7 linked regions of the Homo sapiens genome follow. The protein of the gene in region 4 purifies or fractionates together with the protein of the main gene of each other region. This does not show direct contact. Each region holds a gene or a part of one and is shown on either strand. Other genes may lie near its edges. The genes, in order: RBM33, TMOD1, SDCCAG8, MYO1C, SPTBN2, DEK and RAI14.

Region 1 (3,500 bases), on a different chromosome or scaffold from region 4:
TGATCTGCCCGCCTCAGCCTCTCAGAGTGCAAGGATTACGTGAGCCACCATGCCTTGGCATGATACATTTCAAAGGAGTCATTTGGTATTGCAGCCAAGTAGTAAGGATAGAGAAATGGAATTGCTATCCTTACTAATAGCAGAGAGAATGACAACTGTTATTTATTGGAGACTGAAAACAAAAACATAAAGGCAAAAACATGGCATTTTGGGGAAGGAACAAATAGTTTAATGAGTTTCAAGATCTTCTAGTTCCAGTGCTTCCTTGTAAAATATAAAATAAAAAATCAGTACACAAATCGTAAAAAGCCTCCAACCTAGTGAGTGCGTTATCTCACTTAAGATTTACAACAGCATTCTTGGGCCTGAGCTAATCTGATTTTATAGGTGAGGTGAAAAAATGGGTGCTTGTAAATTTTTTGTTTTCTAGTCAATTCTTAGAAATAAAAAGTTTTAATGGGAAATTTCAAACACATCCAGTAGTAGAATAATGAACCCACATACCCATCACCTAGCATCAACATTCTGGCAATCTGTTTTCATCCCCCCACCTCCACTTTTGTATATTTCAAACAAATCCTAGGCTGGTAAAATTTTAGAGCAAGATACACTGCTGGGATGAGTTAAGACTTTAGATACTAAACCAGTTGCTTTAATTTACATTTGATAGTAAACTAGCCGAGAAAAGTTCAGCCACCTAGCTGTTAAGAAAGGGAAGTAGACTCGAATTCAGGTTTTTTGACTTCTAGTTCAGTGTTCCTTCCACTGTGTCAGTATGTAGTAAGGCAGGAAAGTATGAAGCATGGTGCAGAAGGTTTTCATTCGAAATTGTGAAAGTGAAACAAGTTTTAGTACTTCAACAGGTAAAATTTACCTGGTAGGAAATTTTTGGAGCATTTTAATCACTAATAGTGCTGATAAATGAGATGTTTTCATACTGATAATTATGTGTGTATTTAATTCTTTTTTTTTTTCCTTCAAGAAAATCTTTCATGCTTAATTTCTTAGCTTCAATCAAGAGAGTTTGAGGAGTCGGGAAAGAATAGCCTTTCTCATTTCAGCCATGAGTACTTTTAGCATTTCTTGTAGGGCAGGTGTACTAATGACAAAGTCCCTTAGGTCATACCTGGGGATATAATTTTTGAATGGCAGTTTGAAATATTTCATCCTATCACCTTCTGGCTTCCATCGTTTCTGATGAGAAATTGACTGTTAATCTTATGGAGGATCCTTTGTACATGACATGTCACTTCTCTCTTGGTGTATTCAAGATTCTCTTTGTCTTTGGCTTTTGATAGTGTGATCATAATGTGTTTCTGTGTGGGTCTCCAGATTTATCCTGCTTGGAGTGGTGAGCTTCTTGAATATGTAGGTTCATGTCTTTCACCAAATTTGGAAGCTTTTTATTTTTTTCTCCAGTTCTTTTTCCTGCTACTTTGTTTTCTCCTTCTGGGACTCCCATAATGCATAGATTGGTACTTTTAATGATGTCCCCGTTTTTTAAGGCTCTGCTTATTTTTCCTCTGCTCCTTAGACTGGATAATTTCAATATTTTCCTGTTTCCTCACCTATAGCACCCTTGTTTTCTTCAGAACGTTTATCTCAATTTGTAATTTTCTTTAGTTATTTACTTGTTTTTTAAATCTGCCTCCCACATAAGCCTGTAAGCCTCATGAGGAGAAAAAATGCTGTTTTACCATGCATTCCACATCTTCCTGGCACATAGCATGTGTTAGATATTTGGTGAATGAATTAAAGAATGACATATTTTCTGTATGAATCTGAAAAAATATAATTGTATCCTAATTTATGTTAGTCAATTCCACATGATTCACCTGTGTAACTGATTAAATCATGTTAGCTTGATTTTTTCGGTCCCTCAGTTTTGGGACTGAAAATTGGACATTTTAAATATGGTGATGTGGAAATTTTGGAAGTCAGAATGTCCCCCCCCTTTTCTGGGTTTGCTATATTTCTTGTTGTGGCCTTCAGTTGTCTGGTTTTTTAATGACTTGCCAAATGAAGAGACTCTATTCCTTGTCTCCTGTGGTCACTGATGTCTCCATTGTGTTGTATCATTGCCCAGCCAGTGATCTGATGGAGATGTCCTCAAATGGCTGGAGCTGCAAATAAAACAAAACCAAAACCAAAAAACAAACAAAAACTCCTGTGCTTACGTTACTTCATTGCTCATCCAGGCCACCTATAACCCCAACCTTAGCCTCACCTTCTGCATATGCGTAGCTCAAAGATCAGCCAGAGGTATAAATCTAGGGTTCTTTCAAGTTGTTTTCTGAGCATGTGCCCAGCCTTCAGCATATGCATGGTCTTCCAGATTTCCCATTATACATGGGAGCCCCCAACACTCTCATTCCTTCATATATTTTCCTCCTCAGCCTCTTCTTTCCCAGGCTTTTCAGTTTGTATGTTGCTAACCCTGGCCATCATCCCTTGCCCCAGGTGACCCTGGTTAGTGGATGTCTTTAAATGCTTTTGACAAGCACTGCCTGGGATGCCGCTCTAGCTCTGAGAGAGTTCTGAAGGGGTGGTCTCTGAGCTGATTCCTCAGCTCAGGTCACAATGCACAATCACAATTTTTTGAGGACAGGTTCTTATTGACCCCTTTAGCATCACTGCACCAGGAGCACTGACTGCCATCCCCAGTGCTGCCTCTGAGCTGTGAAACGCTTTCTCTGCATCTGTTGTGATTATGTGTTCTTCCCCTGTTCTTTAATCTCTTAATGTAATCTATTGATAGATTTCCAGTGCTGAACTAAGCATGCATTCTGGGGTTCAAAATCTTGATCTCCACATTTTGTTCTTTTTAATATATTGTTGGATTTCATTTTAGGATTTATCTCTGATCATAAGGGAGACTGACTTACTGTTTTCTTCCTTGGTATTTGTGTGTACATTTGTGCTATCCTTTTATTTATGATATGTTGGTTTTTAGAATGAGTTGTGAAATTTTCTGGGATGGTGTAAAAATCTGTTATTGACTGTGGAAGAACTCTTTTCTCCAGAGCCATTTGGGTCTGGTTCCCTTTAAAAAAGTTATCTTTTCAATTTCCTGTATTATTATTGATTTATTTAGTTTTATAAGATGAAAAGTCAATTACGATCATTTAAATTTTCCTAGAAAAATTATTCTTTATGTTCAGATTTCCACATTGATATAGAGTTAAGCAATGCCACAGCTTCTTTTTGTTGTTGTTGTTGTTGTTTTTGTTTTGAGACGGACTCTCGCTCTATCGCCCAGGCTGGAGTGTTGTAGTGGTGTGATCTCAGCTCACTGCCACCTCCACCTCTTGGGTTCAAGCGATTCTTCAGCCTCAGCCTCTCAAGTAGCTGGGATTACAGGCACATGCTACCACACCCAGCTGATTTTTGTATTTTTAGTAGAGACGGGGTTTTGCCACGTTGGCCAGGCTGGTCTGGAACTCCTGACCTCAGGTGATCTGCCCGCCTCGGCCTCCCAAAGTGCTAGGATTACAGGCGTG
Region 2 (3,500 bases), on a different chromosome or scaffold from region 4:
AAGTATTGCGATAGAAGAAATTCAGGGGTTGTAACTGAGGGGAGAAGGGTTTGCAAACTCTCATCTCTTTTCGAATCTATCTGGTAGAGGCCACGGATTTAGTTAAAGCAGAGTTTCTCAACCTCAGCACAACTGACATTCTGGGCTGGACACTTCCTTGTTGTGGAGGCCACTCTACCCACTGGAGATTGTTTAGCAGCCTTTCTGCTCTCTATCTCCTAGATGCTAGTAGCACTGCCCCCAGTTGTGACAACCAAAAATGTCTCCAAACATTGCCACATTTCTTTTATTTTCTTCCTTTTTTTTTTTTTTTTTTGAGATGGAGTCTCACTTTGTTGCCCAGGCTGGAGTGCAGTGGCGTGATCTCGGCTCACTGCAACTTCTGCCTCCCGGGTTCAAGCAATTCTGTCTCAGCCTCCCCAGTAGCTGGGACTACAGATGCCCACCACCATGCCCGGCTAATTTTTGTATTTCTAGTAGAGGCGGGGTTTCACCATGTTGGTCAGGCTGGTCTTGAACTCCTGACCTCAGGTGATCCACCAGCCTCGGCCTCCCAAAGTGCTGGAATTATAGGCATTAGCCTCCATGCCCAGCCACCAAATTTCCTTTGAGGGGCAAAATTGCCCCTGATTGAGAGCCACTGCATTAAACAAAAAGCCATATAATTATAACATGTTATATAATACAGATTTTTTAATGTATTTCAAAAATATTATTTACATAACATAAAAATATGGCTTCATTTATTCAAGTCTTTATTGAAAGCAGTTGATTTGTAAAAACAAAAATGTCAAAGGCCTTTTCTAATAACTCTAAGCTTATCACATTTTTAAAGTAAATATTGAGAATATCAGCCTCATTAGAGGTTAAAGTTTGTTTTCTTTCTATTAAATGGTATGTTTAACAAAATATCACATGATTGTCAGTAAAACCAAAGATAGATGCATATTTTTAAACTCCTGATTGTTTACCACTTTAACTCGTTTTCAAAAACAGCATGTGATCTCCCATTATATATAAAAACTCAAAGTGAATCAAAGACCTAGATATAAGAACTACACTATAAAACATTTGGAAGAAAACATAGGCATAAATCCTTCTGATTCTGGATTAGGCAATGGTTTCTTAGATAAGATATCAAAGCAATAAGCAACAAAATAAAAAAGTAGATTACTTGGACTTCATTAAAATTAAAAACATTTGTGCTGCGAAGGACACTAGTGAGAAGACAAACCACAGATTGGGAGGAAATATTTGTAAATCATGTATCTCATAAGAGTTTCATATCTAGAATACATAAAAATCTCTTACAACTCAATAATATATGACAAATAACCCAATTTAAAAATGGGCCAGGCGTGGTGACTCACACCTGTAATCCCAGCACTTTGGGAGGCCAAGGTGGGTGGGTCACCTGAGGTCAGGAGTTTGAGACCAGCCTGGCCAACATGGTGAAACCCTGTCTCCACTAAAAATACAAAAATTAGCCGGGCGTGGTGGTGCATGCCTGTAATCCCAGCTACTCAGGAGGCTGAGACATGAAATTTGTTTGAACTCAGGAGGCAGAGGTTGCAGTGAGCTGAGATCACGCCGCTAGACTCCAGCCTGATCAACAGAGTGAGACTGTCTCAAAAAAAAAAATAAAAAATAAAAAATAAAAAATAAAAATGGTCAAGTGGCTGGGCACAGTGGCCCATGCCTGTAATCTCAGCACTTTTGGGAGGCTGAAGCAGGCAGATCACCTGAGGTCAGGAGTTCCAGACCAGCCTGGCCAACATGGCGAAACCCCGTCTCTACTAAAAATACAAAAATTAGCCGGGCATGGTGGCGCACATCTGCAGTCCCAGCTACACGTGAGGCTAAGGTGGGAGGATCCTTTGAACTTAGGAGGCAGAGATTGCAGTGAGCTGAGATTGTGCCAATGCACTCCAGCCTGGGTGACAGAGCTCCATCTCAAAAAAATAAAAATAAAAATAAATAAATTTTTTAAAATGGGCAAGTGATCTGGATAGACATTTTTCCAAAGATTATATAAAAATGGCCAAAAAGCTCATGAAAAAATGCTCAATACTATTATCCATTAGGGAAATGCAAATCAAATCCAGAATGAGATACCATTTCACAGCCAGCAGGATGGCAATAATAAAAAAACACAGATAATAACAAGTACTGATGAGAATATAGAGCAACTAGAACTCTCATACACTGCTGGTAGGAATGTAAAATGATACAACCCTTTTGGAAAATAGTTGTGCAATTTCTCAAAAAGTTAAACATAAAGTTACCATATGATGCAGCAGATGTATGTCCACCCAAATGCTTGTACACGAACATTTATAACAGCATTATTCATAATAACAAAAGTACGAACAAGTCTAATGTTCACCAGCTAATGAATGGATAAGACAAATGTGGTATACCCATACAATTGAATATTATCAGCTGTGAAAAAAAACGTAGTACTACAACGTGAATGACCCTTGAAAACATCATACTAAGTGTAAGAAGCCAGATACAAAAGGCCATGTATTATACAATTCCATACAATATATGAAACGTACAGAACAGTCAAATCTGTAGAGACAGAAAGTAGATTAGTGGTTGCCTAGGGCTGGTGTTATGGACTGGAATGTGTGCCTCCAACTCATACGTTGAAGCCCTCACCCCCAGAGTGACTATAATTGGAGACAGGGCCTGTAAGGAGATCATTAAAGTCAAATGAGGTCATAAGGGTGGAACCCTGATCTGATAGGATTGGTGTCCCTATAAGAAGAGATACCAGAGAGCTGCTGCAACACCTCCTTCCCCAACCAGTCACCGTGAGAACACACAGAGAGAAGCTGTTGTCTGTAAGCCAGCAAGAAAGTCTTTACCAGAAACTAACCCCTCAAGACCCTGATCTGGGACTTCTAAGCCTCCGGAATTGTGCAAAAATAAGTCTCTGTTGTTTAAGCCACCTAGTCTGTGGTATTTTGTTAGAGCAGCCTAAACAGGTTAATACAGCTGGGAAGGTTGAAGGGAGATGGAGAGTGACAGCTAATGGGCATGAGGTTTCTTTTTGAGGTGATGAAAATGTTCTAAAATTGATCATGATGGTTATACGACTCTGTGAATATGCTAAAAGAACAAACCAATGAATGGCGCATTTTTGTTTTCTTTTTCTTTTTTTCTTTTCTTTTTTTTTTTTTTTTTTTGAGACAGAGTCTCACTCTGTTGCCCAGGCTGGAGTGCAGTGGCATGATCTCGGTTCACTGCAAGCTCCGCTCCCCACCTCCAGGTTCACGCCATTCTCCTGCCTCAGCCTCCTGAGTAGCTGGGACTACAGGCGCCTGCCACCATGCTCGGCTAATTTTTTGTATTTTTAGTAAAGACGGGGTTTCACCATGTTAGCCAGGATGGTCTCGATCTCCTGACCTCGTGATCCGCCCGCCTCGGCCTCCCAAAGTGCTGGGATTACAGGCGTGAGCCACCTCACCCGGGCTGAATGGTGCACTTTAAGT
Region 3 (3,500 bases), on a different chromosome or scaffold from region 4:
TTTTCTGGTTGCTAAATCCTGTCTTTTGCCAATTTTATCTCATCAGTAGTAGGAAAGAAAAATTGAGATTGTACTTTTAAGTTCTAGTAAAATAAAAGATCATAAAAGTTAAAGGCACTAAGAAGAGCCACATGAGGCCAGGCACAATGGCTCATGCCTGTAATCCCAGCACTTTGGGAGGCCAAGGCAGGTGGATCACTTGAGGCCAGGAGTTCGAGACCAGCCTGGGCAACATGGTGAAACCCTGCCTCTACTAAAAATAAAAAAATTAGCCGGGCGTGGTGGTGGCACCTGTAATCACAGCTACTCGGGAGGCTGAGGCAGGAGAATCGCTTGAACTCAGGAGGCAGAAGTTGCAGTGAGCCAAGATCACATCACTGCACTCCAGCCTGGGCAAAAGAATAAGACCCTGTCTCAAAAGAAAAAAAAAAAGTCGGGCACCGTGGCTCATGCCTGTAATCCCAGCACTTTGGGAGGCCAAGGCAGGCAGATCACCTGAGGTTGGGAGTTTGAGACCAGCCTGACCAATATGGAGAAACCCCGTCTCTACTAAAAATACAAAATTAGCCAGGTGTGTTGGCACGTGCCTGTAACCCAGCTACTCGGGAGGCTGAGGCAGGAGAATCGCTTAAACCTGGGAGGTGGAAGTTGCAGTGAGCTGAGATTAAAAAAAAAAAAAAAAGAAAAAGAAAAGCCACATGAATATATAAAACAAAAGATGAATATGTATAATTTGAATTTTATCAGCAAAAAACCCCTCATGTTTATGTGTGTATATTCCTATATAGTGCATATGGCAAACAATATTTAAAAATCCAGAAAATATTTGAGAAAAGCAAAAAAGAAATACAAGTTTTATAAGAAAACAGGAATACTTATTTGAGTTACACATATGTTTTCTTAAGACAGCCAGATGATATCACTGCTGGCTAATACACTGACCAAATTGTTGGCTAGTAAGACTAACACAGCCCTTCTACAATTGTGAGCCACTTTGCAGGATTTGGATAGATGTGCTAATCATATACAAGCAAAACATAGAAAGTCAACCTTATCTTTGGTTTTCTTGAACTACATCAATTCGTAAAGACAAGGCCCATCCCTGAGATTATATATTTTCTTCTCATATTCATCCTCTCACTTTCTGTGTACCTGGTTCAACTCCTTACTCTCATTTCCATAAGACAAAAACATAGCCCTTAATCATTCATCTGGTCCAAACAAGTGCTGATGGAAGGAACATTAATGATCAAAGGGTCAGAGAGTGGTGTCTAAAGGGGAATCAGGCTCTGGGTGTGTTTTGCTTGGCTTCCTTCTTGGAAGAAAAGAGGGAGGAAAAGAGGGAAAAAGAGAGAAGAAAAAAAAGGAAGCAAAGAGGGAGGGAGCAAGGAAGAAATTGAAATGTTTTTAGAAAAAGCAGAAACTGCCCAATTTGGCCATAAGCCTCATCATTTCCCTTAATGTCTTCCACTGACTCCATCATACCTTTTGATCATTTGCTTGGCACCTAAAGGCAATAATTCTCACATCCAGTCCAAACTTTTCGTTTTACAGTTGAGGAAACGGGAATCCAAGAACAGTGTGTTTCACTTGCCTAAGGTTACCCAGATGGTTGTCAGCAAAGCAAAAGTAAGTGCAGTGACCTGGCTCCCAGCTCCACATTCTCTCCTCTGACCCCACCACACTCTTCCCATAAATTCATCTAAAGGCTGAAACACCAAAATGTTGACAGAAAAAGGTAAAACCAGAATGCAAAATGTATATAGAAAATCATGAGTTCCTGTCATACAAGAAGTTTGTTTCATTTTTCCTTATACTCACCCAACCAAAGGTGGCTAGGAATGAGGTGAATAGGTGAGTCATGTATACAGGTGTTGTTGATAAAATTGTTATCTATTCCCAACGCTGCAGCAAGAGATGAGACATGATTCTGTTATTAAGGCTAAAATACTGCATTTCTAGCAATTTTTCTCCTTTCTGATATCCCCTTACACTCAAGTGTGCAGTACTTAAAATAGAGCCTGGATTGCCTATAATTGTGGCTTTTTTCACCCTTTCTTGGCTATGAAATAGTTCATTTCATACCTCTTGGCTTTATACAACGATGTATTGAATTTAGAGAAGGCGCATGTGCTATCTTGCCCACTTACAAATGTAGTTCTCGGCCATTCTGTGGTTGTTGAATTATAACTACCCATAGAGTAAATGAACACCTAACCTTACTGCCAAGAGACCTCCCAAATCACTTCCAGTTCTAGATTAAATTCTGTGGTTCCCAGGATACCCAGGACACATACACTTTTAACCACACTGGAAACTTTCAGACCATTTACTATGTAGGAATAATACAACAGATCTGTGGGGGCAACAAAGCCTTCCGGTTTTTCTGCCAGAACTCTCGTTTTGAAGAAGAATCATTAAATGTCTCCAATTTCTTGTAAAAGGGCATAGGCGACCCAAAGCAAGAGATATCTTTAGAGAAGTCAAACAGCAAATCCACTGAAAAGTGTAAGGGAATGGATGAAAGGTGAATGTGGAGCTGCTCCAAGATCATCAAGGTCAAAATGAGGCAAGGATCTCATTTTAAAAGCAAGAAAGTAAACGCTGACTCAGTTTTCACATTACAACTTCAAATTATTGATATACCATAATAGTACCAAAATTAAAGAAATGAGGAAAATATCTTTTTTTGTTTGTTTGTTTTGGAGATAGGATTTCACTCTTGTTACCCAGGCTGGAGTGCAGTGGCGCGATCTCAGCACACTGCAACCTCCGCCCACCGCAACCTGCGCCTCCCAGGCTCAAGCAATTCTCCTGCCTCAGCCTCCCGAGTAGCTGGGGTTACACGCGCCTGCCACCACGCCTGGCTCATTTTGTATTTTTAGTAGAGACAGGGTTTCTCCATATTGCTCAGGCTGTTCTCGAACTCCAGACGTCAGGTGATCTGCCCGCCTCGGCCTCCCAAAGTGCTGGGATTACAGGCGTGAGCCACCGCGCCCAACCTCATTTTAAAAACAAGAAAGTAAATGCTGACTCAGTTTTCACATTAGAACTTCAAATTTTGATATACCATAATAGTACCAACATTAAAGAAATAAGGAAATTTGTTTTTGTTTTTGTTTTTGTTGTTTTTTGAGACAGAGTCTCGCTCTGTCGCCCAGGCTGGAGTGCAGTGGCGCGATCTCGGCTCACTGCAAGCTCCACCTCCTGGGTTCATGCCATTCTCCTGCCTCAGCCTCCTGAGTAGCTGGGACTACAGGCGCCCGCCACCACGCCCGGCTAGTTTTTTGTATTTTTTTTTTTAGTACAGACGGGGTTTCACCGTGTTAGCCAGGCTGGTCTCCCATCTCCTGACCTCGTGATCCGCCCGCCCCAGCCTCCCAAAGTGCTGGGATTACAGGCGTGAGCCACCACGCCCGGCCCCAGGAAAAGATCTTTTTAAAATGGAAGTACGATCACGGAAAATAGGGAAAGCATTTTGCATTTTTATGCGGCCACTT
Region 4 (3,500 bases):
CCAATGTCCAAATACGGCCGGCGCGCCCGGCGGGCGGAGCGTTCTCCGTGCGGGACGCCGTCCACCCACACGCGCCGGGGCCTGGTCCGAGCCTCGAACCCAGGAAGATCTTGGTTTTCCTCGTCAGCACGGAGCTCGCGCCCCAGGGACAGGGACGGCCAACGGGTGCCCTGGCCGAGCGCGCGGAGTACCCGGCCCCTCTGGAGGGCTCAGTTCCCCCTCTGGGAAATTCGCGTCCCCCCCGCCCACGGCATTTGGGGCCCACAGCCTCTCCCCACCCGGGACACCCCACTCGCCTCTGGGCCCGGACCTCCTCCCTCCCTCCTTTTTTTTTCTGTTTTTTTTTTGAGACGGGGTCTTGCGCTGGCTCCCAGGTTGGAGTTCAGTGGCGCGATCTCGGCTCACTGCAACCTCTGCCTCCCGGGTTCTAGCGATTTTCCTGTCTCAGCCTCCCGAGTAGCTGGGATTACAGGCGTGCGCCACCACACTCGGCTAATTTTTGTATTTTTAGTAGAGACGGGGTTTTACCATGTTGGCCAAGCTGGTCTGGAACTCCTGACCTCAGGTGATCCACCCGCCTCGGCCTCCCAAAGTGCTGGGATTCCAGGCGTGAGCCATCGCGCCCGGCCCATCTCCCTCCCTGCTTTGAAGGGGGCCTCCCTAGTCCCTCCGGATCTCCGGGACGCCCCCCACCTCCGAAGCGGCCTCGGCAGAACCTCCCTCGCTTGGCTCTGCGGGCACCACCCTCCCTCGCCTGGGGCGAACCTTGGCTCAGATCCCACCGCGGGCAGGGGCGGGGACGTCTAGAGTCTGCAAAAGGCTGGGCTGGTTCTTCCTCGCGGTGGGACTCTGAGCAAGTCACTTAACGTTTCGGCTTCTGTTCTTCATCCCTAACATGAGGCTAACACAGGCCTAGAAGGGCCGTTGGGTGGCCTGAGATAGAGCGTGAAGGCACCTCCAGACCCCCTATAGACCTCGCTGCCCCCACCCGCCGCCTTCCCTCGGCCGGACGCTCATTTCTCACTTGCTTGCGGGCAGAGGCCTACTGAGAGCCAGGCCGTGGGCCACGCTTCCGATCCGGTGGGGAGAGCCTCAGGCGCGTCTGCAGGCACCTGCCTCCTCCACCAACACAACGGCGTACACAGACTCGCCCTGGTGGGGTTAGGCAGAGCGGGAACCCAAAGCCCCAGCGCCCCACCCCCAGCTCGCGGACCCCGCTCCCTGGGGAGAGGGCGAGGCTGCGGCAGGTGCGGGCCGGATCCTTGCGGGGAAGGCTCGTCACTGCAACAACCCGGCCGGAGCGGCGGCCCTGGGGACCCCCGAGCGGGGGCACCAGCTGGTGGGGGAGTGGGAGCGGGGGAGGGGGAATGGCGGCGTCTCGGACAGAGGCGGGGGAGGGCGGGAGGAGACGCCCGCTGCGGTGCCCCCAGGTTTAAAATCTAGAGGGAGGGCCGGGCGCGGTGGCTCACGCCTGTAATCCCAGCGCTTTCGGAGGCCGAGGCGGGCGGATCATCAGAGTTCAGGAGTTCGAGACCAGCCTGACCAGCATGGCGAAACCCCCTCTCTGCTAGAAAATACAAAAATTAGCTGAGCGTGGTGGTGGGCGCCTGTGTAATCCCAGCTGCTCGGGAGGCTGAGGCACGAGAATCGCTTGAACCCGGGAGACGGAGGTTGCAGTGAGCCGAGATTGTGCCACTGCACTCCAGCCTGGGCGACAGAGCGAAGCTCCGTCTCCAAACAAAACAGAACAAGGAAAATCTAGAGGGAGCAAGGAGGCGACCCAGCCTCCAGCCCGCCCAGGGGTGGGGAACGTCCTAGAAGACGGGGTAGAGGGTCAAGAGAGCCCCTCCCGGAAGCTCAGCTCTCTCCCTGCCCCGCGAGGCGTGGGGGACTCGGGCCGGGGGCGTGGCAGGAGCCAGCGGGGGCGCGGCCAGAGGACGGGGCGGAGCTTCGCGGCCGCAGTGTCCGCCCCGCCCCTCCACGTCACGCGGTTGGAATGAGGGGAATCCGCGCGCGGAGGGGTCGGGCCCGCTTCTTCCAGTTCCCGGGCCGCGCCGCCGCATTCCCGGGATGCCCGCTGGCGCCCCCGCAGCCACCGCCCGGCGGCGGAAGGAGGGGGCGTCTCCGCCGCTCGCGGGCCCCAGGGCGGCTCCAGCACTGGCAACCCCCGGCCTGCCCCTCCTCACTGGACGGAAGCGCGAGCCCCGGGCGGGGAGGGAAGCGGGGAACCTGGGTGGGAAAGACGCCGCGGCTGAGGCTGCAGCGCCAGGCGCCTCCTGCGTTCTCCGCGCTTTCTTGGGTTACTCCTTTCAGTGACGCCAGCCAAGCCGTGAGGTCCGTATCATCACTCCAATGCAGAAGAACTTGAGGCTGGGCAGGTGACTTGTGCAAGGTCTCAGGAGGAGTGGGACTGGAACCCGGGCACTGGAACACCTTACTGCAGGGCTGCCCTGAGCCTCTTTGTGCGGTTATCAGGGCTACCAGGGCTGTGACCTTCAGTGACACCGTTCAGGCCCCTGTCGGTGTCGTGTGATTCTATTATGTCACATGTGGGCTTTAGGAGTGGGCCAGGGCCTTTGGCTCTGGGCCTAGAGGTTCCCTGCAGGCCATGGCCCCTGAGTGACATAGGAGACTTCTTCCCCAAGGCTGCCTCTGGGTCTTCTCCCACCTGGGGAGGCATTTACTGGAACCACAGGGGATGGGGTGGCCCAGCAGACCTGGGCTATCTAGTGCCCTTCAGCTCCTATAGGCCAGGTGCCTACAAGCCTGACTTCTGCGGACAGCGGAAAGCTCAAATGTTCCCCCAGCCTAAGGGCACACAGATCTTGCCATGGGGTAGGGGTGTTGGGGGCTGGGAGGAGGTGTCATCTGAGGCACCCGGGACTGCTGCTATAAACCGATGTCCACTGAGCCCAAGGCAGCAGAAAGGCAGCCACAGCTTGTCTCACGGGTGGCACAGAGCAGGGCTTCAACTTCTGTTTATTAAACAAATCTTAGATCTGGGCCTGGCTGCCCACCAAGGACCGTTCCAGACCTCAGGGAATTGTTGTGAAGGGAAATGGGGAGGAGATAGTGGCGACTTAGGGTCTCTACCCTGATTGCTCACAGGGCCTTGGTCAAGGACTGTCCATTCTAGCTACACAACCATGGATCTTTGGCTGCCAGACACCTCTGCCTGGGGGGTCCAGCAAACGTGAACAGAGGCAAGGTGCAGTGAGTGGCTCACACCTGTAACCCCAGAACTTTGAGAGGCCGAGGTGGGAGGATCGCTTGAGGCCAGGAGTTCAAGACCAGCCTGGGCCACATAGTGGTGAGACCCCTGCCTCCACTAAAATTTTTTTAAAAAGTTAGCCAGGCATGGTGTGTGCCTGTGGTCCCAGCTACTTGGAAGGCTAAGGTGGGAGGATTGCTTGAGCCCAAGAGGTTGAGGCTGCAGTGAGCTGTGATGGTGCTACTGCACTCCAGCCTGGGTACCCCAGAAGACCCAGTGTCAAACAAAC
Region 5 (3,500 bases), on a different chromosome or scaffold from region 4:
CGTGTCCAGGAGTTGGTCTTCCTGCCCCCAAGCTGCCTGTGAGCCTCTGCCCTCTCCCATCCCATCCCCAGTACTCCCCCACCCGCACTCACCACCCCCTCTGGACCCTTCGCCTCACAGTTATCAACACCACACTTGCAGGGGAACTCACCGGCCCTTCGGGGAAGCTGCTGTGCTCAAGTCTCTGTTGTCCCAGCAGGGGCTGCAAGGACAAGAATCTGTAAAAGGATGTGCGGGGGTGGAGGGGCTACGACTCCGATGGGGGCACAGAGGGACAGTGGGGTCACCTGTGAGGGCTCTCCATCTGTGCAGACTCCATTAACACTGGGTGCTTGTGTGGATGGTGGTGGCCGTGGCTGGGTTCTGGGATGACCAAAGGCAACACAGAATCATTAGTCCCTGGGTGGCCTGGGCTCAGCCGCCTCCTCCTACCCAGGCATCCTGGCTCTCACCCGTCCCAGGTGGTGTCAGAAGCTGTCTGGCCGCCCACCAGGTCCCCTGGAGGCACACTGGCTGTGGGTTCGGGAGCAGGCGGCTGTTTCCGCCGCTCCTCCTCCTCCCTCTTTCTCTTTCGCTCCTTCTCCCGCTCCTCTAGCTGTCAAAAAATGCTGCATTCAGCGTGTAGAAGGTTGCGTGTAAGAGGGCCAGGGAAACAGGGAGAGCTGAAATGTCTCAACTCTAATTTGATGAAATATGATAAGAGGAGAACAGAATTTGAGAAGATGGTGGGGACAAGAAACAAAGCGGGAGAAGGTGTCTCGGCATCACCCAGGGGAACTGACACCTCCTAAAGGTGTGGTGACAATGGCACTCTCAGCTCACATCTGGGGGCCACTGGTGCAGTGGGAAGAGAGAAGACATGTCTTCTCCAAGCAGAAGCCAGCACAGGTCAGGGGAGCAGGTTGGAGTGGGCATCCGGGGTCCTGTGTCCCTCACCGCAGTAAGCTTCTCCAGCGCACAGAATCGCTCCTCCCAGGCCACTGCTGACTTCTGGAAGGCCTCGTGCCGCTTGATGAGGCTCTCAACTTCGTCGACCGTGCAACCCAGCTCAGCGCTGCGCACCAGTGGCTCCTGGCTGCAGAGCCAGGCCTCTGCCATCCCTGCATCTCTTCCAAACACAAGCACCTCCAAAACTGGCAGGATCGGGGGTTGCAGGAAGATGGTGGGTCAGAGTGGCCACTGGCAGGGCACAGTGGCCATGGCAACCTCAAGAACAGGGACACAGAGAAAGCCACTGCCCCAGAGCTGTGCCAGGCAGCACGAAGATTGGGCATCGTGAGTTTCACACCCAGGGTTCCTAGTCTCACCTACTCTGGAACCCACAGGGTGCAGGATGCCCCCCACTCCCCACAGGGCCTGGGGCCCCCTTGGCAGCTCACCCAGCTGAAGCCAGTCCATCTTCTCCTGCCACTTCTCAGCTGTCTCCTGGCGCCGTGCCTGCAGCTGAGACAGCTTCTCTGAGATCTGGGGGCGGGGGGCAGAGATATGAGTTAGCACCAGGATGTGAGATCTTTCCACGGCCCCTGGGGAGTCATCCAGGGGGACAGGTGATTTCTTTCTTTCTTTCTTTTTTTTGAGACGGAGTTTCGCTCTTATCACCAAGGCTGGAATGCAGTGGCGCAATCTCAGCTCACTGCAACCTCCACCTCCCAGGTTCAAGCAATTCTCCTGCCTCAGCCTCCGAGTAGCTGGGATTACAGGTGCCCGCCACCACGCCCGGCTAATTTTTGTGTTTTTAGTGGAAACGGGGTTTCACCATGTTTCATCACAGCCCAGCCACACAACCCATGGAGGCCAGGCTGGTCTCGAACTCGTGACCTCAGGTGATCTGCCCGCCTGGGCCTCCCAAAGTGCTGGGATTACAGGCGTGAGCCACCATGCCTGGCCCAGGACCAGTGATTTCTGATGTCAAGAGGCAGACGGTTCTGGGGAGAGATTTCCAGAATGCGAGAAACCCGTGAATGGCACTGAGGGGAGAGAATGAAAGGTTTCTTGCAAAGAGAGAATGAGAGGAAGCAGAAAGCCACCAAGAAGTCAGCGTTCAGCACTGCACAGTGAGAATGGCCCGGCCACCCAGGCCTCACCCACCTCCTCGGCCGCATAGTGGCTCCTGGCCAGCAGCTCCTTCCCCATGTCGATGCAGGAGGAGAAGCGGTCTGCCCGGGCCTCTATCTCTGCCTTGATGCCTTGCTGGTTCTTGATGACTAGATCCGCGGAGGACACATCCCTGGGGGGAGGCAGAAACAGCATCACCTGCTGCCCACAGCCCCATCACAGCCCAGCCACACAACCCGTGGAGGCCCTGAGCCCTGGGATTCTCACCGGGGACGCTCCTGGGCATCCATCTGCAGGTTGACCTCATCCATCCAGAGCATCAGTTCCCGGACAGCCTTGAAGAAGCGGAACTTGTCTGTGGTGTCCAGCAGCAGCTGCCGGCGGGCGGCAGAGCTTCCCTGAAGCTGGGCCCAGGCCTCGGCCACGGCCTGCATGTGGCGGCCGATCTCCTCAGCCTTGTCTCCAGCGTAGGCCTTCTGGAGCCGGTGGCCGTCGTCCTGCACCTGCTGGACCTGCGGAGCCCCGGGTCAGAGTCAGGCAGAGCGGGGGACTCCAAGGAGCCGCAGCCTGCCTCAGTCCTGGCTGCCACTCTCACCTCCTGCCTGTCTCACAGCCAAAGAAGCAGGGGGAGGAGCCAGGGAGTGGGGGTGCTGGGAAAGATGAAGGCAGGGGCTGGCCACACTCTGCCCTGTTGGGTCTCATCTAGACACCTGGGCTTAACTGGGGGAGGATCTGGAAAAGAGCCATTGGCCAGTTGAACTTTCAGAGGCCTGTCTAGGATGTGATAGACCTTGGAGATTGCTAGAACGTGCTACTTAGCCTGAAAAGGGGATTCAGGCAGGGGCTGATGGGTTCTAGTGGTTGAAGGAAGGATCCATGCTTACTGAGTGTGAGCCTAGAGCTCAAGCCTGGGAAGCACTAACAGGCTGATTTAGCGCAGCATGAAGAGTCTCCTGGCCACTGGGAACCCCTGAAGACATCATGGGCTCTCAAGGGGGCTTGTCATCAAAAGTGTGAATGCAGTGGCTAGATGTCCCCTGCCAGAGATGTTTTCTTTCTTTTTGAGACGGAGTTTCGCTCTTGTTGCCCAGGCTGGAGTGCAGTGGAGGGATCTCAGCTCACTGCAACCTCCGCCTCCTGGGTTCAAGTGATTCTCCTGCCTCAGCCTCCTGAGTAGCTAGGATTACAGGCATGCGCCACCATGCCTGGCTAATTTTGTATTTTTAGTAGAGAAGGGGTTTCTCCATGTTGGTCAGGCTGGTCTCGAACTCCCAATCTCAGATGATCCGCCCTCCTCGGCCTCCCAAAGTGCTGGGATTACAGGCGAGAGCCACCGCGCCTGGCCAAACAGAGATGTTTTCTTGGAGCAATTTCCTCATCTCGAAATGGCCCTCGAAAGAGTGCCGTCCTCCCAGCATTTCTGAGCTCTACCCTAGCTCCTGGGA
Region 6 (4,148 bases), on a different chromosome or scaffold from region 4:
CTTGTTTTTGATCTCACAGGCTCATAGGTGGAAGAAACTCATCTTCAGATGAAACTCTGGACTTACAGATTTGGGACTTCTGTGTTAATGCTGAAACAAGACCGGACTTTGGGGGACTACTGCGAAGGCACAACTGAATCTTGAAATGTGAGAAACATATGAGAGTTGGGGGACCGGGGGTGCAATGATATGCTTTGGATGTTTGCCCCCTCCAAATTTCGTGTTGAAAAGTGATTTGCAATGCTGGAGGTGAGGCCTGGTAAGGTGATTAAATCATGGGGGCAGATCCCTCATGAACGGCTTAGCATGGTAATCCGTGGTGGTGAGTGAGTTCTCTCAAGATTTGTTTAAAAGAGCATGGCACCTCCCTCTACAACTTGCTCCCACTCCCAAATGAAATGCCTGCTCCCCCTTTGTCTTCTGCCATGATTGGAAGTTTCCTGAGGCTTTCACCAGAAGCAAATACTGGCGCCATGCTTCTTGTACTGTCTGCAGAACCACGAATCAATAAAACCTATTTTCTTTATAAACTACCCTGCCTCAAGTGTTTCTTTATAGTAACGCAAAAAAAAAAAAAAGCCTAATACAGAAAGTATTTCACTGTCTGGCTTCCATGATGCCTCAGTTCTAAAGTTAAATATTCAGGGTTAAGTAAAATAAAAACTTTCACAATTCTACTTGTCCCACAAACACCTCAAATTAGTAAAAAGAATAATAAATCACAGCTACAATAAAACTATTAGGGGATAAAATTTCTACAACATCATGTTTTTAAAAATAATTTGTCTAGAACAAAACATGGGATTCTTTCAACTACCAACTCTTCCCCAAGCATTACTGTGTTGGCCACTTACAGTATATTTACATGACTTCTCTAATTTTTTCCTGACATGAAGAAAATTCACCATTTCTTTGGCATCTCAACCCTGCCCCCACCAGAAGACCAAAATACAAACAAAAAATTGGAGAAAAAGTGCAGAGCCTCTTTGGCTAGCAGCGAGATAGTGCAGCCAATTTTGTTGTTGTATTAAAAATAATTTTAAAATAACATGTTGTTAAGCAATAGTTTATGTGAAAACTTATATTTAAAAAGCCATGCTTTACTTAAATATGCCCTTCTTAGGGCACATACCACTTTAAACAAACAAAAGGCACACCTTGTAATCTTAACCCAGATTGTGACCACAGGCTGGTTGAGGCTTAAAAAAAATCCGGGTTTAGGAAGAGCGCTTCAACCTCTTCCCAAGTGTGGCTGAGTCGTAAACATATACGAAATAACCGCAGACTAAGCTAATATCAAAGAATGCTAAGAGATGCGACTCGGATTTTTAAATGTTTGGAAACATGTCAAGAAGCGGGTACACCTGAAACAGACACTGCATGCATCCTGGATAAACTGCCGCAGCACACTCCTCTATTCAGTCAAGTTTCCGTTTCACACCTCCAGTCAAATCAGGGCTCATATCGCCCTCCCTTAAAACAGACACAGGTTCGAAACCGAGACAGTGCTGGGCTCACATTTAACTTTCTTTCAGAGTTCACTTTCTTCATTTTTAACTACTTTCTCAAGTAGCAACAGCTTTCACCGCTGTTTGCCAGGGAGGGAAACTTTTTGGTAAATGTAAAAATATTCGAAAGTATTCAAATACTTCCGGGTCTAGCCTTATAACTTCAGTCTTAACGGGCTGCACCAAGACCTTACAATAACTTCAAAAGGCAAAAGATGTGTAATGAAAAGGACAAAATTAGAACATCCACTTAGCAACTTCAAAGGTGCACACACACAGGTAAAAAAAAAAATCAAATCCAAGACCTACAAACTTCCCGTCAAATGATGAAATGTTAACGAACGTTTAGAGCGGACGAGAAGTCGGCTGCACTCCAATACATCTCTACCACGCTAACAAATACTTTAAAAACCGGAATACACAAAGTCAATTCTACGCCATCGCTCAAAACAAAAGCAGATAAATTGTGCACACATTCTCGCTGAAAATCACTCCGACTTCACGCCTCTAAACACCAAAAGAGCAAGAAAACTGTTTCCTGGGTGAAAAATACAAAAAAACTTCGGTCTGAAAAATTCATCAGTTGGGATGCGACTCCCCCCACCTTTTTCCTCCTCCTCCTCCTCCTCGTCGTCCTCGTCCTCTTCCTCCTCGCTCTCCTCTCTGGGACCGGGCATTTCGGGTTCTTTCTCGGACGCGGGCTGGGTGGGGGTTCCCTCCCCCTCCGCAGCAGGGGCCGAGGCGGACATGCTGTGAACCTGCATGCGGGAAGAAAGCCGGACGTCTCGGTCCTCCTACTCCCGCAGGCAGGACCGGGCGGCCACCCTGAATGATGCTACCCTTCCCGCGGGACACCTGCCCTGAAAGTTGCCTCCTCCCATAGCCGGGACCGCAGCGCTCAGTCCCCAGGGGCGGCTTCCCTCCCGCTCCGCCGCCGCCGTCCAGGGATTCCCGAGGCGGGAAACCGCGCCCGCTGCCCCGCGTGCGCGCGCGCCCGCCCGGCCTGCGCTGTTCCCGGCCCGGCCCGAGCTGCCGGCCCTCCACGTCCCCTCCCCCGCCCCAGGCCGCCGTCCAAATGGCCGCGTCCCTCCCCCGTCGGCCGCGGCAGGGGCGACCGGGCCTCCGGCGTCCCGAAGCAGCCCTTACCGCGGATTTCGGCCGCCGCGGGCCTGGCACGCGAGGGCACGAGGAGGTTCTGGGAGGCGGCGGCGGCCGACGCCGAGGAGAAGGCGCGCGGGCCGCTGTCTGGCGTGACGCTCGCGCCGCGCGCTCGGCTCCCCAGAATCAACAAGATTTTCAAAATGGCGGTTCGGGAAGGAGAGCGGGAATGCGGCGACCAATCAGGGCCGCGAGCTGGGAGTTGGCGGGCGCGGGGCGGGGGAGGCGGGGCGGCCGGGTGCCTCCGCGGGAAGCTCGGGCGGGCGGGACCGCGAGGGGTCGCCTCGGCCGCGGGCGGAGGGATGCGCGCGCGGGGCTCTCCCCGGCTGCGCCTGGAGTGTGGTCGGCGCTCGGGCCCCGGAGTGCGGGCGGGCTGTGTCCCGCGGGGCGGGCGGGAGCGGGAGGCGAGGCGGCCTGGCAGCGCGGAACGGAAGGACGCTAGGGGGCCTGCGTGTTTATTGTTTCCACGGTCGCTTCCTGGAAAAGATGATGAGCAGTCCCGGGCCGCGGAGGGGCGCGGCGGGCGCGGTAAAGAAGTTTAGAGATCTCCGAAGTCGCTATCGACAGTGTTACTCTGAGGCGGAGGAGAATTAATCAGCGGTCTCATCAATGCTCCAGAAATCATGCTGGGTGATAGATAACTCCCAAATCTGTATTTCTGAGGACCGCATCGCTTGTAAGGTGCACCGAAAGGAAAAAGATCCTACCTGCCACGTTAAAGGTTCACATAGCCAGCCACATAGATTTACACCCCTGTAAATATAAGGGGAGAGGCTCCCTCCCACCCCATTCCTTCTCCTCTCCTCTCTCACACACACTCTCTGTTTTATAATAGAGGAAATATGTTATTTGGCCGGGTCCAGACCCTTCTCCCAGAGTTCTAGGTCATCTATGCAGATGCTTTTTACACATTCAACACTGCAGACACTCAAAGCAGTATCTTCCCTGCTCAATGCTGCCTTCTTTTGTATGTGATTTCCTTTATTTTCTCCCAACTCTTCAACCACTAGCTCACCTGAAGGATCCTTGTACTCAGTGGACTTAATAGAAATGTGATCAGTGAAATTTGCCTGGACTCTGGGTTGCAGGACAAAAATTAGACATTTCCTTTGAATCTTCCCTTTTCCTTTTGTTCCCCTTCCAAAACATACGCGAATAGTGTCATTTCTACCCTCAAACGGTATGCCATTTTCCACACTATTTATCCCACTCAAATCCTATCCACACTCCACAGCTCATCTCTCCTTCTTGCTGCCTGCAACGTGGTTGGGAGTGGGGGGTTGTGTTTCACCCCTATTTGTGTTACAGCTCTTTCAATCCTACCATTTGGCAGGTCCTGAGTTCTGGTCCTGTGTCCAGGAAGAGTGAGGCACGCAAACAACTGGAGGGTGAGCAAGGTGGACAGGAGCTTCACTGAGGGACAGAACAGCTCTCCTGAGACCTGAAGTGGGTTGCTCCTTTCTGCAGGGGGGTTGTCCCGAC
Region 7 (3,500 bases), on a different chromosome or scaffold from region 4:
AGAAGTTATCCAAGTGCAGAAAGAAAGTAGTAAAATTTCTATTTAGACTTATTTTTAAAAATCAAGAAATTAAGCTTTATTTGTAATTACATTGATGGTAGAAAACATGTATAGCCGTAGAAATAAATATACCTATATAGGAAATATATGCTGCAAAATGTTTTACTAATGTTTTAGAAGCTAATTAACCTTCTTCCCAGTTTAGAAAAAAAAAAAAAAGTGCAGCTCTCTGCCAGAGCTCATTTAATTTTATATAAACACACTCTTTGAGGCTGAAGAAAATCTGACTGATTTTCAATGTGAAAATAAAATATAAAAACTGTTCTTGGAGTTATTTCTAAACAGAACTAACACCAGAATCATCTGTCTCAGAAAAATCGGATTCATCAAATGAATCTTCAGCCAAGATCTCTTTGAGAACGATATTAACATCACACATAGGAATGCTACGTTTTCTAGGATTTGACATTTTCAGTGGTCGAGAATTACTACATTTTGTAAATGGAAATACCACTACTAAAAACAGAATGCTATAAACAGAATGATGTCTTTTGTTTCCAAAGTCAATACACTAGAGTGATGGGAAAATAATAATAATAAAAATGAGATATTTCGTGGCAAAGTTATCTTGAGGTAAATGCTGTATCCCCAAACGCCACTGGTGAGTATTCTTGGAGCAAATGGGAAAAGGGTTAAGAGTAATACATAAATCCATTTTGCAGAAGAGAATCTAGGTTGAAAAGCAATAGAATTTGCCCAATACTTAGTTGTCTAAAACAGGAGTACCCAACCCAGGGGCTGCAGATCAGTACCAGTCTGTGGCCTGTTAGGATCTGGCTGCACAGCGGGGAGTAAGTGGCAGGCGAGTGAGCAGTACTGCCTATAAGATCAGCAGCAGTACTGGATTCTCATAGGAGCACAAACCCTATTGTGAACTGAGCACGTGAGGGATCTAGGTTGTGCACTCCAATGCCTGATGACCTGAGCTGCAGTAGTTTCATCCTGAAACCATCCCCACCCCCATCCATGGAAAAATTATCTTCCTCAAAATCAGCCCCTGATGCCAAAAAGGTTGGAGACTGCTAGTCTAAAGTCTCAGTGACTCTAGAGGTATCCCATTGAGCTCTAGAAACCAATGTCTACCTCTGCCTCTAGTGACCACCTGGTACTTACCAAATCTTTGAGGTTTATGGGGCTCTTGTGTTCGCAGAGAATCTGCACAGCTTGAAGGCAGCCCTGAGCCGCTGGGGGAAGGAAAATATAAATACCACAGCCAATCACACAGTTATTCACAACCAGGGGTATCAGATACTTCAGGAAGGAAATGTTCATGTTCTACCCACTCTACATATATTCACTCTAGTTGCATTGAAGAGAAATGGTATTAGGAAGGTTAGGAGTGAGGTGTTTAAAATTACTGCTTAATTTCAGAGTTATGCAGGCCTAAAGCCAATGACTGCCAGTTGCCTTTAGGCAAATATTTGGCTCAGGTTTTCACAGGACTTAGCTTTTCCACAACTAGCAATAAAACACATGTGTAAATCTAATCACTCATAGTTCAGTGTCAACGTTTGTCACTTCAAGTTGTGTAATCATACTAAACAAAATATTAGTAAATAAAATTGACTGATGTTCATAATAATCCTCAAATCAAAAAGTCTGTATCACACATTACCTGAAATCTACAAATGCTTAGAATATCTCTTAGTTTAAAAAGAAACCTTAAATTAGTTAAAATATATTAATCGTGATAATTTTCAGTGGTTAGGTGGCAAAGGAATTGATGAATTCTAGGCATATGCCTCGGTAAAACTGTGTATGTTTTACAAACAGAGTAAAATGGGAATGTTTAGAAATGATGACAGAAAAGAGCACCAGGAATAGTATGGAAGGTTAATGGCCTGAATAAGGAAAAAGAAAAGTTGGTGTTTCTAATGGCAGAAGAAGACAAATAGGAGAATGAAAGTTACCTGCATAATGTAAAGCTGTTTTCCCAGAGCTGTCGACACTTTCGGCTGGGCATTTAGACTATAAGACAAAAATAAATACATCCATATAATAAAATACCCTGCCCCAATTCTATTCAGTTCAGACTTTTCCTGCAAGGTATGATGTGACTTATTAGGAAGACTATTAACATAAATAAGCCCCAGCTGCTGTGTTCCAGGGGCCTACAGTCTCCTATGGGGAAGGAGACTCATGTCTTTGGGATGGGCAAACTCTCCCCTCTTTGCTGCTTCACCTATCTGTTCCTCTCCTTCCCTCATCACTCCAGCACCCCACCAGCTAATAGACATACTCTAGGCTCTCTCATCTTAATCCTTTCTTTTCCCCCATCTCCTGCCCTTTCTGTCCCCCTTCACGAAACCAGCTTTCTCTTAAGGATTACCCACATGCAGTCCACGCACCCTCACCTCCATTCACTCCCAAAACCACTGCAGTTGGGTGTCCCCTCTCGAGTCCAAGGAGATGGCCTTGGTCAAGGTCACCAAAAACCTTCATGTTTCCAATGACGATAAACATTTCTGTCCTCCTCTCTCCAACCTCTCAGCTCCTAGAGCCCTGCTTGGCTCATCTTATTCTGCTTTTCCTCTTGCGGCTCCTCCTCTAGCCAAACAGAAAACCTCAGGGCTCCTCAGTGTTCTTCCTCTAAGCTCTTTTCCCTGGTAAGCTCCTCCACACCCACAACCTGAAATATCATCTAGAAGAATGAACGCTAGTGACTCCCAAATGCGGAGGTCCTAACAGTGACAACAATAAGTGCTATGTAAGTATTAGCTCTCACGTGCCAGGCACTGTTCAAAGAACTGCTTTATGTCCCCTAACAACACGAGGTGGATACTATCATTACTTCCACTTTCAGATGAAGAAACGGAGGCACAAAAAAGTTGATAATTTGCTCAAGTCGCAGTAAATGGCAGAGCCAAGATTCAAACTCAGACAGGCTGGGCTAGGGCCTGTATTCTTACTCATACACAAAAGTTGTCATCTTCAAGCGCTAGGCTTGATAACCCACTGCCTACTTCACATCTCTGCTCTGATGTCTTATTAGCATCTCAAAGGCCCAGCCAAAATCTCTGGCTTCCCCTCCCCCGTGCCCCACCTGCTCCTCCCTGACTGCCTTCTCCATCAACAGCATCATCATCAGTCTAGACATTGAGCCAGAAACCAGCGATTCAGCTTTGATTCCTCCTCATCCTCCACCCCCTTCCCCGACCCCTCTTCCTCACCCCACATGTAGTGGACCACCATGCCCTGTCAACTTTTTTCTCCAAAACTCGCCTCCACTCTACCCTCTTCCCTTTCTTGTTCCCGACACCCTTTTCTAGGACAGCGTCTTCTCACCTGAACAGCTAAGGTAGCCTCCTGGCACGTCTCCCCAGTTCTGCATTTTTCCCCTTTTTATCAATTCTCTAAAGAAACAGAATTCTCTTTTAAAACTGTGACTCTCACTGTCTACTTAAAAGCCCCTCACACTTCCATGCTGTACTTAGGATGAA

The links.
Region 1: the proteins of MYO1C (region 4) and RBM33 purify together in Homo sapiens (affinity purification with mass spectrometry; one large-scale study listed by BioGRID and IntAct). This does not show direct contact.
Region 2: the proteins of MYO1C (region 4) and TMOD1 purify together in Homo sapiens (affinity purification with mass spectrometry; 2 studies listed by BioGRID and IntAct, with this or other methods). This does not show direct contact.
Region 3: the proteins of MYO1C (region 4) and SDCCAG8 purify together in Homo sapiens (co-immunoprecipitation; one study listed by IntAct). This does not show direct contact.
Region 5: the proteins of MYO1C (region 4) and SPTBN2 purify together in Homo sapiens (affinity purification with mass spectrometry; one large-scale study listed by BioGRID and IntAct). This does not show direct contact.
Region 6: the proteins of MYO1C (region 4) and DEK fractionate together in Homo sapiens (co-fractionation; one large-scale study listed by BioGRID). This does not show direct contact.
Region 7: the proteins of MYO1C (region 4) and RAI14 purify together in Homo sapiens (affinity purification with mass spectrometry; one large-scale study listed by BioGRID and IntAct). This does not show direct contact.

Annotation. Positions count from the first base shown.
Region 1 is NC_000007.14:155,647,661-155,651,160, forward strand, and holds part of RBM33 (RNA-binding protein 33), read left to right. Parts: intron 1-3,500. UniProt on the Homo sapiens protein: RNA reader protein, which recognizes and binds specific RNAs, thereby regulating RNA metabolic processes, such as mRNA export, mRNA stability and/or translation.
Region 2 is NC_000009.12:97,539,666-97,543,165, reverse strand, and holds part of TMOD1 (tropomodulin-1), read right to left. Parts: intron 1-3,500. UniProt on the Homo sapiens protein: Blocks the elongation and depolymerization of the actin filaments at the pointed end. The Tmod/TM complex contributes to the formation of the short actin protofilament, which in turn defines the geometry of the membrane skeleton.
Region 3 is NC_000001.11:243,259,041-243,262,540, reverse strand, and holds part of SDCCAG8 (serologically defined colon cancer antigen 8), read right to left. Parts: intron 1-3,500. UniProt on the Homo sapiens protein: Plays a role in the establishment of cell polarity and epithelial lumen formation. Also plays an essential role in ciliogenesis and subsequent Hedgehog signaling pathway that requires the presence of intact primary cilia for pathway activation.
Region 4 is NC_000017.11:1,486,187-1,489,686, forward strand, and holds part of MYO1C (unconventional myosin-Ic), read right to left. Parts: intron 1,487-3,500; exon of another isoform or gene 1,470-1,486; intron 1,044-1,469; exon of another isoform or gene 1,025-1,043; intron 946-1,024; exon of another isoform or gene 766-945; intron 1-765.
Region 5 is NC_000011.10:66,687,717-66,691,216, forward strand, and holds part of SPTBN2 (spectrin beta chain, non-erythrocytic 2), read right to left. Parts: intron 2,568-3,500; coding exon 2,323-2,567; intron 2,228-2,322; coding exon 2,089-2,227; intron 1,465-2,088; coding exon 1,380-1,464; intron 1,134-1,379; coding exon 937-1,133; intron 596-936; coding exon 453-595; intron 364-452; coding exon 288-363; intron 203-287; coding exon 152-202; intron 1-151. UniProt on the Homo sapiens protein: Probably plays an important role in neuronal membrane skeleton.
Region 6 is NC_000006.12:18,261,731-18,265,878, forward strand, and holds the start of DEK (protein DEK), read right to left. Parts: upstream 2,801-4,148; 5' UTR 2,655-2,800; intron 2,484-2,654; exon of another isoform or gene 2,368-2,483; intron 2,267-2,367; 5' UTR 2,258-2,266; coding exon 2,113-2,257; intron 1-2,112. UniProt on the Homo sapiens protein: Involved in chromatin organization.
Region 7 is NC_000005.10:34,806,328-34,809,827, reverse strand, and holds part of RAI14 (ankycorbin), read right to left. Parts: intron 3,365-3,500; exon of another isoform or gene 3,346-3,364; intron 2,029-3,345; coding exon 1,971-2,028; intron 1,245-1,970; coding exon 1,174-1,244; intron 1-1,173. UniProt on the Homo sapiens protein: Plays a role in actin regulation at the ectoplasmic specialization, a type of cell junction specific to testis. Important for establishment of sperm polarity and normal spermatid adhesion.